Regions from separate parts of the Homo sapiens genome. Here region 2 is linked to region 1. Evidence: fine-mapped expression QTL. Tissue or cell type: left ventricle. Region 1 holds a variant in brackets; the other region holds the start of a gene. All regions are shown on one strand. Distances are between the middles of the regions.

Region 1 (5,000 bases):
GAAGGAGCATTACCTTTTAAAAATGGGGCCCCAAAGACGGAGAAGAGCTCATCCCCGTGGTCTCCTATCACCGTCTTGGGTTTCATGTCTGATGAGAAGCTTGGACGGTACTGAAACTCATACATGTAGGTGGGTGCTCCAGCATCTGAGAAGACAAGGATTCATGCACAGTTCATGTTGCCAGACACACACCTGGAGGCTACCAAGGTCTTCAGCTCTGCAGCAAACCTCTGGCTGTCAGCACAGTAGAGAAACAGAGTCTCAGGAAAGCTCAGTGATGCGCTCCGGGCTGCATAGCTGTCTGAGGTGGAAGCGGAATTAGAGCCAAATATTTGTTCAATGAACAAATGTTTAATGAATGAATGTGGAAACCCTGGGTCAATTCATTTAAAACAGCTGCCGGTGCAGGGACCCTGACTCTGCCTCGTAAACCCCTTTGCCTGCTGGTGCATTCTCACACAAGACAATCTCTCTACATCTGGTTACACCGGATATAATTCATTGATAACAGACTCGCGTTCATTCACTTGGATGCCATCTCCACCATGACAGGTGTCTTCTGTTCTGCCTCGTTTTGAGCATTTCCAGTGTTTTTCTCACCCATCCTGAGAAGACTGAAGCAAATCCAAGTTGCTTGTCTGAACATGAGGCTATTTAAATACAAACATATGCAGAGAGGGAACAATCTGCCTCTTGTGTCTCAGGAACCTGCGGCACTCACTGCTTTATAGCTCACTGTCCCCATGTGTCTTGCTGCCTGCCTGGCCTGGGAGTGTTAGGGTGTTAAGGCAGTAAAGCCCTGGCAGAGAAAAGAAGGCGCTGAGCAAGGGTGACCTTGCCTCTCCCCTGCCCTCTCTCCTTCGGCTCTGCCCTCCTCTCCCACCAACAAAGCTCTCCTGTCCCAGCCCCAGGAAGATGCCAGTTTCCCAATGATTGGCTCATTGGAGCCACAGATCGCTGCCCCTTCAGGGCTACCTCGTGGGCCGCCTGGCCCTGTGCCTCAGCACTTTGCACTGGTCATGATACCCACTGAGAAGTGACACTAAGACGGAAAGAGTCAGGGCAATGCCAGGCTGGTGGAGAAAATTTACAATGTCCTCCCCTTTGGGTACAGTAAGAAATTTGGAAAATAAAAACAATTAGGAATAATTAGAAGAAACAAAAATATGGAAACGCATAAAGCAAAACTAGATATCACTCATAATTCCACTACCTGAGGCAAGGGCCATGCATTTTTTGTATTTCCTTCTAAAATTTTTCCATATCCTATATAATTTAAAAATCAATTTTAACAATCAAATTTAAAGTATCACTCATAACTCTACCACTCAGAGAATGCTTCTTTTTTATTTTAGCATATCTCTCTTTTATGTATTTAACTGGGGATGATATTATATATGGTATTTTGTAGTACACTGTAATCACTTCCCTTTTAAATTGTTTTGTAGAGACAGGGTCTCACTATGTTGCCCAGGCTGATCTTGAAATCCTAGGCTCTCATAATCCTCCCACCTCAGCCTCCCAAAATGCTGAGAGTGTTGGCAAGAGCCACCGCCTCCAGCCATCATTTCTTAACATCATTAAAAATTCGTTCACAAAAGGATTTAACAATGGGAGCTCACGCATCCCTAACCTCATGCCCCACCCGCACATGTCATTTCAATGTGAGAATGAAGAATAATCTATTCACTCATCTTTGTCAGCCTCCTGCACTGCACCCTCGGCTCAGCAGGAAGCGCACCTGGGAAGATGCCATCCTTCTGTGGCTCTGTAATCCACCTGTTAAATGGCTGCTTCAAGGTCAAACAAAACTTGCTAAAAGGAGGGTTTGACCTTGCCTTTGCCCCTCGAACATTTTCCAAAGAAACTCAGAGCCAACCATAGAAGAAAGAGCTTTTGTGAATGATAGAACTTATTATAGGCAGCATGCTGCCCAAAACGTACTTTGTAAAACTCTTTGGCTAAAGCCATTGATATTTATACAATTCTTACAATCACAACACAAGTCTTCAGAGGAAAGTAGCGCACAGATTTGGGTAATGACAATTAGACATAATAAGAGAAGCAGAGACAATGAGAGGGCTAGTCATGGAGGACATGCAGATTAAAACAGGCTGATGTGCTTCTTGTTGGTGGGGAAGGCTTATGAAACTGGAAGTGTTATGCTAATTTTTAATCTTAGCATCCCAAATGAGAAAGAGAATTAAGAAATCCACATTCTTATGCAGTGGAATGCAATTTTACAATATTTGCCCAAAGTTCTAAAACATTTGCATTGTCCAACCTAGTTATTTACTTCTAAAAATAATCCTAAGAAAATTATTAGACATGTGTTTAGAGACTTATGAACATTAGGCTGAGCTCAATGTTATTGTAGCATCAGAATGTGAGTAGCCAGGCTAAACATCT[A/C]ATAGGATATGAATATTAAAGTCTATTTAACACAGCCATTTCATGGAATAAGGAATGCTTTGATGAGTTTGTATCAACATTGAGAAAATCCTCACAACATAGTGTTCTATGAACAAAAGTAAAATATAAAATTGATTTTTAAAGTATATAGGACATGGAAAATCTTTAGACGAAAACACAAAAAATTTATAGCACTTGCCTCCAGGTAGTGGAAATGAGTGATACATAGTTTCTTCTTTTTGTGTTTCCATATTTTTGAAAGTTTCTATAATTTAACATATTAATTTTATATTCAGAAATGTTATTTTATCAAAAAGAGTGAGACAACAATAAGTGAAAGTAGATAAAATCTGTGTAGTCCTGGCAAAAAAAAAAAAAAAAAAGCCCTGAACTTAAAGTCATGGGAAACCAGATGAAAAACATAAGTTCAGTATTGCTCAAACCATCAGAAAATGGAGATGGGAACTCTATATATAGTTCAGACGCAGAGCATAGGGCAAGGGCAAGTTTAAGAAAGAACAGATTCAACTCCAGTGGTCTTGGTTAAAGGTTTTTATCAGGACCCTGTGAAGAAATGAGGGTTATGAGCACCTGCCCCTTCCTGTGCAAAGGTGTGTCAGGGCACCTGCTAGTTAAGCGTTAGCTAGTTTTTATCATGCTTATGAAGTTCTAAATTTAAAAACCCTTCCAGCATGGTTAGAGAGAGGACATTTCCTAGCTTGCAGACTAGGCGAATGAGAGCTGGAAGAAAAGGAATCCTGTGAATCTCCTCTAGCTGGCACGCAGGAACAGACACTCCTCTCTAGGTGAGCACACACATCCCTAACGTCATGCCCCACCCACACAGCCTTGGGTCAGTGGTAGCAGGTCCTGCATAGACCCTGCCCTTGCCCTGTGCTTGCATGCTACTGCACGCACTGAGATGCATAAAAACCACCCTCAGACACTGCCATTCTACAGACCACCTCTCCCACACCCGCCCTGGCTCCTCTCTCTGGCCTTCTTGGTCCTGGACAATCCTCTGGATCCCATGCAGGGCTCCCACTTTTTATCCAGCTCCAATACTTAACAAACTTGTTTGCAGCTGGCTCAGACCTTAAAACCCTTCCACGACTCATCTTTCAATATTTGTCCTACAGCAGCCCTATGTCCCACAATAACTCCAGGCATGGAGCCCTTGCAGCAGATGCTGCCAGGGTCTCACCTATATCCCCTCTTCCTGGGCATGCCAGCCTGACTTCCACCTCCAGCATCTGCAGCTCCAGGCCTGAGGCCTTTGTCTGGTCACAAGAGACTACTCTGCCCTTGTGTGCAGCAGGTCGAAGTCACAGGGAATAAACAATTCCTTGCAAGAGCCTTCAACCAATGACAAGTAGAAGCTGGTGAATAAATACCCGGCTCCCTTGCCACTCAGATGGGATGCCCCTGAGCCCTGTATTCTTGGTGTTTCCTTGAGTTTCCCCGCTCCAGTTGTCCACAGTGGATACTCCCTTGACAACGCATCTTGGATTGGATTCCATCTCTTTCCTCTCTCACTTCCCCACCTCCCTACTGCTGTTATCTGGGATCATCACCTTAAAAAAACCACTTGCCTCTGGATTTTTTTTTCTCACAGTCTTCTGCTGGCATAAACCAAAATAAGACAGCACCTCATCCCATGCCATATGGAATCAGCCTTTGAGGCCTGACCCTCAGCTGTTTCCATGTCTGTCTATGCTGGGAGGTAGGTGGGTCAGATACAGAAGCTCGTGGGGTTTGTGTCCCTCCCGTTCGACCTCTGGGACTCACCTCTGTGGTTCCGGGCCACAATCACAGATGGGACACCAAACATCACATCTGCTATCAAGTCCAGGAACAGGTCTTTCTTTTTGACAGTGTCGTCTGTTCCTCCTAAGTATTTCTCAGTGGCTTCTGGAATCAGTTCCTTAGCAATGCACTGAAATAGATCAAAAAGTGACCACCAGCCCCGGGTGAGCGATGCAGCTTCTCCAGCCCACCAGAAAGTCCTGCCTCAATGGTGAACCCCATAAGCCCTGTGCAACTCCCCGCTAGGGTGGAAAATGAAGTGGGAAAGGTGGAAAGATGGGGGAAACCCTGAGGCCCCAGTCTTCATTCTGCCATTTAATTGCTCTATGATTTGGGCAAGTCCTTGTCCCTCTCTGGGTCTCAGCCAATTCCCATGATTCCTAGACTCTTACAACAAGGGGATAGGACTTCCACAGGAGTGACATGGCTGTCTTCTGGTCCAGTTGCCCTTCGGAGAGTGGATAGCTCATCAACTGCTAAAAAAAAAAAAAAGTTCAGCATTTATGAATCATTGGGAATTAATGATAAGAAACAAACTGACCAACCAACCAAACCAATGCAGTCTGAAAGTCCTCTAATTATGGGGGCTTTTAAGGGCATGAGTCTTTACTGAAATGGGTGAAATCAATGAATCAAATGGGCTTATATCCAGAAACTCAAGCATTGCAAAGTTTACAAAAAAAAAAAACAAAAAACAAAATTTCAGAGAAGCTGTGGCAGTGTTTTGCAGTGTGTGTGTGTGCGCGCGTGTGTGTGTGTGTGTCTGTGGCTGGGATCCCTACAGT
Region 2 (5,000 bases), 24 kb after region 1:
TTTCCACCTTTTCAGCACTGTATGGGATTTCCGGTCTTCACCTGAAATCCTCCCCCCCATCTTAATTATTTTAAAATTTTAAATAAAAAAAGAAAAAATATGTAGAAATATGATGATGTCTAAAAGGTATTTTGAAAGACTTGGAGACCAGGCACAGTGGATCACCTGTAATCCCAGCACTTTGGGAGGCCAAGGCAGGCAGATCATTTGAGGTCAGGAGTTCAAGACCAGCCTGGCCAACATGGTGAAACCCCCTCTCTACTGAAAATAGAAAAATTAGCTGGGTGTGGTAGCATGTGCCTGTAATCCTGGCTCCTCCAGAGAGAGAGAAGAAGGAAAGAAGGAAAGGAAAGATGGAAGGATGGAAGGAAGGAAGGAAAGAAGGAAGGAAGGAAAGAAGGAAGGAAGGAAGGAAGGAAGGAAGGAAGGAAGGAAGGAAGGAAGGCAGGCAGGCAGGCAGGCAGGCAGGCAAGTGGGAGTGAGGGAGGGAGGGAAAGAAAAGAAAGGAAAAGAAAAGACTTGGTCCCTGACCAGAGGTGGGGGAAATGGAAGGGAAAGAAGACCAAAGAGCTGGCTTGTAATGCTGGATCCCTGTTTACACAGGCTCGGTGGAGATGTGAGTGGGATATCCAGGCAAGATGATGCCACAGGATGAGCGCACTTCAAAGCTGGAAGGAAGCCTGGTGAGGGAGCAGGGCAGAATCTTCTCCTGGACTGTGAGGGTACATACGGTGGATGTGTATGGCTTCATTGAAGATGCCAGTGTGAGAGGGAAGAGAAAAAAAAACAAAGGTCAAACACAGGGACCACTACGGCCAAGACCAAAGATCCATCAGAATAGGGGAGAGAGAACGTTCCCATGTCTTTGAAGCCCAGGGAGCAAGAGGGCGAGGAACCAGCTAAGAGTGCTGAGGACTTCAGGGAGGTGGAGGAGAGTCAAGTCAGAGAAGAAACCACTGGGCTGGTCATGCTCAGCTCAGGGATTCCCTTCAACAGGATGAGGTGGATGGCAGCCAGATTGCCAAGGGTGAAAAAGTGGGTGAATGGGGGGAGGCAGAAACAAGTGTGAGAACAAGACCAGTTGCTGCTGATGTTATATGAAGCACGAACATGGTGGGCACCTACTATGTGCCAGGCATGCATTCCAGTTTTTTAAATTAATCTTCAAATAAGCCTTGCTGGGTAGGCATCAACATGCCCATTTTACAGAGGAGGAAACTGAGGAAGTGGAGGCAGCCTGTATGGTCTTCCTAAGGAAGGAAATGGATGGCATTGCCAGGAGTAACCAGAGGTAAAGGAACATTCAGTTCCAAATAGGCTTCCTCTCTTCTCTGCCCTTCCCCACAGTTCCAGAGCTCTCGCAGTGTCAGGCTGCCAGAAGGAAGACAGGATGCAGACGGGGCTGGGCTGTCAGGATTCAGGACCCAGAGACAGACCTAGGCGTGATTTTCGGGTTGACCCTGGGCAAGTACATTTCCCTGTGTGAGTCTCAGTTTCTCTGTCTATAAAATGGCATGGGGGTATTTCGAGGCCCCTCGCTGCACCCCTCTATGTACCATGTGTTTTGCTTTCTGTATTCTGATGCTCTGGCATCTGAGGCCTTGTTGACCTTGGAGAAACTCCCTCCCAGGGTCCAGCCACCCCAGAGCCCACACCCCAACTGCCTCTTTGATCGGGTTGCCATGCCCTGGCCACTACCCACCTGCCCTAATCATGCCAGGGCTAGGTACAAAACAATTAGGAACAGCCCCTGTGCCCCAGAGCCCCTGAAGTATCCCAACTTGCCAGTCCTCAGCCTGCCTGCCCTGCCTTTCCTCTTCTATCCTTGGAAGCCACAGTAAAAGCCCCTTGGCCTCAGATCCGCCCTGTCCCCTCCCCAGGCTCTGCTGCTTCCCCTTGTGCCCCGCGCACTGGTGTCCCCCTCCTGTTGAGAACATGAGTAAGAAACTGTCTTTTTAATGGCAAGAGGTCCTGATATAGTGGCCTGACCACAGCTCAAATTTTCTATTCATACACTACGTTTTTAAACAGCGCCTTTATTTATCCATCCCTTTTTCGTGCTTTCTACATACCAGGCGCTGCCAAGAGTGCTTTAGAAACAGCCACCCATTTCCTCCTCACCAAAGCCCAGTGAGGTAGGCAGCACTGCCACCTCTGTTTCAGAGAGGGGGTAACCCAAGCACGGAATAGCGCAGTCCCTTGCCTAAGGACACACAGCGAGGAAGCGCCCAGCGGGGACTCGAACCCACGCACTCTGGCTCCAGAGTCGATGCTCTTAATATTATGTTGAGCCGCTCTCCGTGATCCAGCCGTAAGGGGACTAATTAAGGGACAGCAAACTGAGCTGCCTAAATTTCTCGTGTGTGCGGCCTGAGGTGGGCCGGCTGTCGGCCTGCATTTGGGCGAGCAGTACAGGGCGATCTCAGGATGTTCACCCTCCCTGCGTCTCCGCGCGGGCCAGGCTGGCCGGGCTCAGCTGCTCCAAGTCCAAGTCCTAATATGGAAGTCGTGCCCCGCCGCAGAGCCGGACCTGTTGTGTCTTTGCCTTTCTACGCATCTGCGCCCACCTCGGCCCAGAACAAGGATTTCAAAAAGTGCCCCGCATTTTGATTTCAGAAGGACTCACCCCAAGCCGCGGAAGCAGAGAGAGTGGCCAGGATAAAGGCACGGAGCCACATCGTGGAAGGGCGACAGTTCTCGGGGCCTGCGAGGTCTCTGTGCAGTTCAGAGGGACTGTGCTGTCCAGCCCTGGAGCCCAGCCCCGCCCAGAGTTACCGCCCTGCGCTGCCAATTGCCTAATCCTCTAATTGGGAGAGATCAGAAAAGCCCTCCCTTTCCTCAGATCTCCCTGGGCTTCTAGTGGGGCCTCAGGCCACGCCCACCCACAGTTTACCCTCTTTCATCAAACCAGTCTGGACTCTACTGTCAGATTACAGAGAGCTGTAAACTTGCCCAACTACTTGTTACATAAGGGTTCACCCTTGCAGGACTCTAACCTCAGTGCACTGTGACGGCCCCCAAGGGCCCACACCAGCAGGCAGATGCTTTTAGGCAAAGGGAAGCTTTGATCTGAGGTCCTCAGAAACAACTGGAAAATGTTAGAGCCACTCACACCTCACAGCTCAGCTGGGTAAGTTAGGACATATCTCAGCTCCCAGGGCTTGTGTTTTCATAGCTTTCCAGGCTCTCAAGCTTGGAAGCGATCTTAAATTTCATCGAGTCCCCTTTCTGAGGCCTGAATTAGCTTCACAATATCCTGCCAACTGGTCCAGCCTCCTGTCACACACCATCGGTGTCAGAGAACTCACTACTTTCCAAAGCAGGGATTTTTGGACAGAATGTAAAAATGAACTCCGTCCCCCCATAGTCCCTGGCTGTTATCATCCATCCATCCAAGTACCCATCCATTTTGTGAACATTTACCAAAATGCTTGGCACCTGGCCATGTATAATGGATACAAAGACCAATTCAAGACATGGTTCAGCTTCTCAAGGGGCTCACCATTGTAGACAAGACAGATGGGGTGGAGGAGCAGTAGGGGTGATGTCAAGGCAATGTGAAATCACCAAATTAAGGGGATACAGAGTGCTCTGGGCACACCTGGAAAACTGTCATTTACAAGCTGCTGGGGACACAAGGAAGTCACTCAAAGCCTCTTTCATGGGATTATTAAATGTCCAACAATAGGGAATTCACTAAACACACTGTGGTACCGCTGGCTAAGGAAATACGATGTATTCACTCAAAATAGTGATGTGCACAGCTATTTATTAACAATGAAGACAGGATGCGTTGTGAAAGGAGAAAATAATAGGTTATAAACTGTTGTGCGGTGTAGGCAGTTCCTCAAAAAGTTCAACACAGAGTTTCCATATGACCCAGCAATTCCCCTCCTAGGTGTCTACCGAAGAGAACTGAAAGCATGTCCACACAAAAGCTTGTACACAAAGAGCAGTGTCATTCATCCTAGTCAAAAAGTGGGCACAACCCGCATGTCCATGACCTGATGAATGTGTAAATGAAGTGTGGTGTATGCGTGCAGAGGCATATCATCCAGCCATAAGAAGAACATGCTACAACGTGGATGAAGCTGGAAAACATCATGGTAAAGGAAAGAAGCCAGCCACAAAAGGCCACATGTCGTATGATGCTTTTTATATGTAATTTCCAAAATAGTCAAATCCATGGAGACAGAAAGTGTTTGACAGGGTCTGGGGAAGGGGAAAGAGACGGGGATGAGGAGTGACTGCTAATGGGCATGAGTTTTATCTTGGGGGTGGTAAAAATGTCCTGGGATTAAATAGTGATGATGTTAGTGCAACTTTGGGAATATACTAAACACCACTAGATTGTACACTTTAAAAAGGTAAACTTTATGACATGTGACTTATATTTCAATAAAATAATGAAATATTTTTGAAAATCTAGATAGGTATAATATGGTCCCGTTTTGGTAGTAACATATGTCTTTATTTGCATAGGAAAATACTGGAAGTCTATATATCTAATTAGAATTACAACAGCCATTTCCTGGCTGTAATCTTGTCAGTGTTTCACTTATTTGCATTTTCCACTTTTATTCCTTCATACATTCATTGACAAATATTTACTGAGAGCTTACTGTGTGGCAAACACTATGCCGAGAGTTTTGTATGCAGGATCTCAGTTCTCAAAATAACCCCGTGAGATTAATGCTGTCTCACGATCTTAAATTGATTTCTGTTGTTTAAGCCACCCAGTCTGTGATATTTTCTTCTGGCAGCCTAAGTAGACTAATACATAGGCTCAACTCAATTCCGTTATTTATTCCCAAAAGAAACTAAGGCCCAGAGATGAGGAGGGATTGCCTAAGGTCACACAGCAACTCAATGGCAAAGTCAGAACCAGAACTTGAGGCTTCTGCCTTCCAGCACAGGGTGGCTGGCAGCCATTTCTCTTGCTTTTATACATCAGGAAGATATTCTAATCAGTAGCCTTATCTAAGGCAAATTGCCTTGTC

Evidence for each region. PIP is the estimated chance that this variant, and not a neighbour inherited with it, causes the effect.
Region 2: it holds the start of CES1, and the variant in region 1 is fine-mapped to the expression of CES1 in left ventricle (GTEx, PIP 0.96).

What each region holds. Positions count from the first base shown.
Region 1 is chr16:55,806,320-55,811,319 of GRCh38, forward strand. CES1 (carboxylesterase 1) reads right to left here. Exons shown (of 14, transcript NM_001025195.2): 10 at 4,608-4,691; 11 at 4,198-4,345; 12 at 14-145. Among named protein-coding and RNA genes, the nearest start is that of CES1, 24 kb to the right of the region's middle. The variant A/C (reference allele first, on the strand shown) is at 2,410.
Region 2 is chr16:55,830,378-55,835,377 of GRCh38, forward strand. CES1 (carboxylesterase 1) reads right to left here and starts at 2,719. Exons shown (of 14, transcript NM_001025195.2): 1 at 2,627-2,719. The coding sequence starts at 2,678.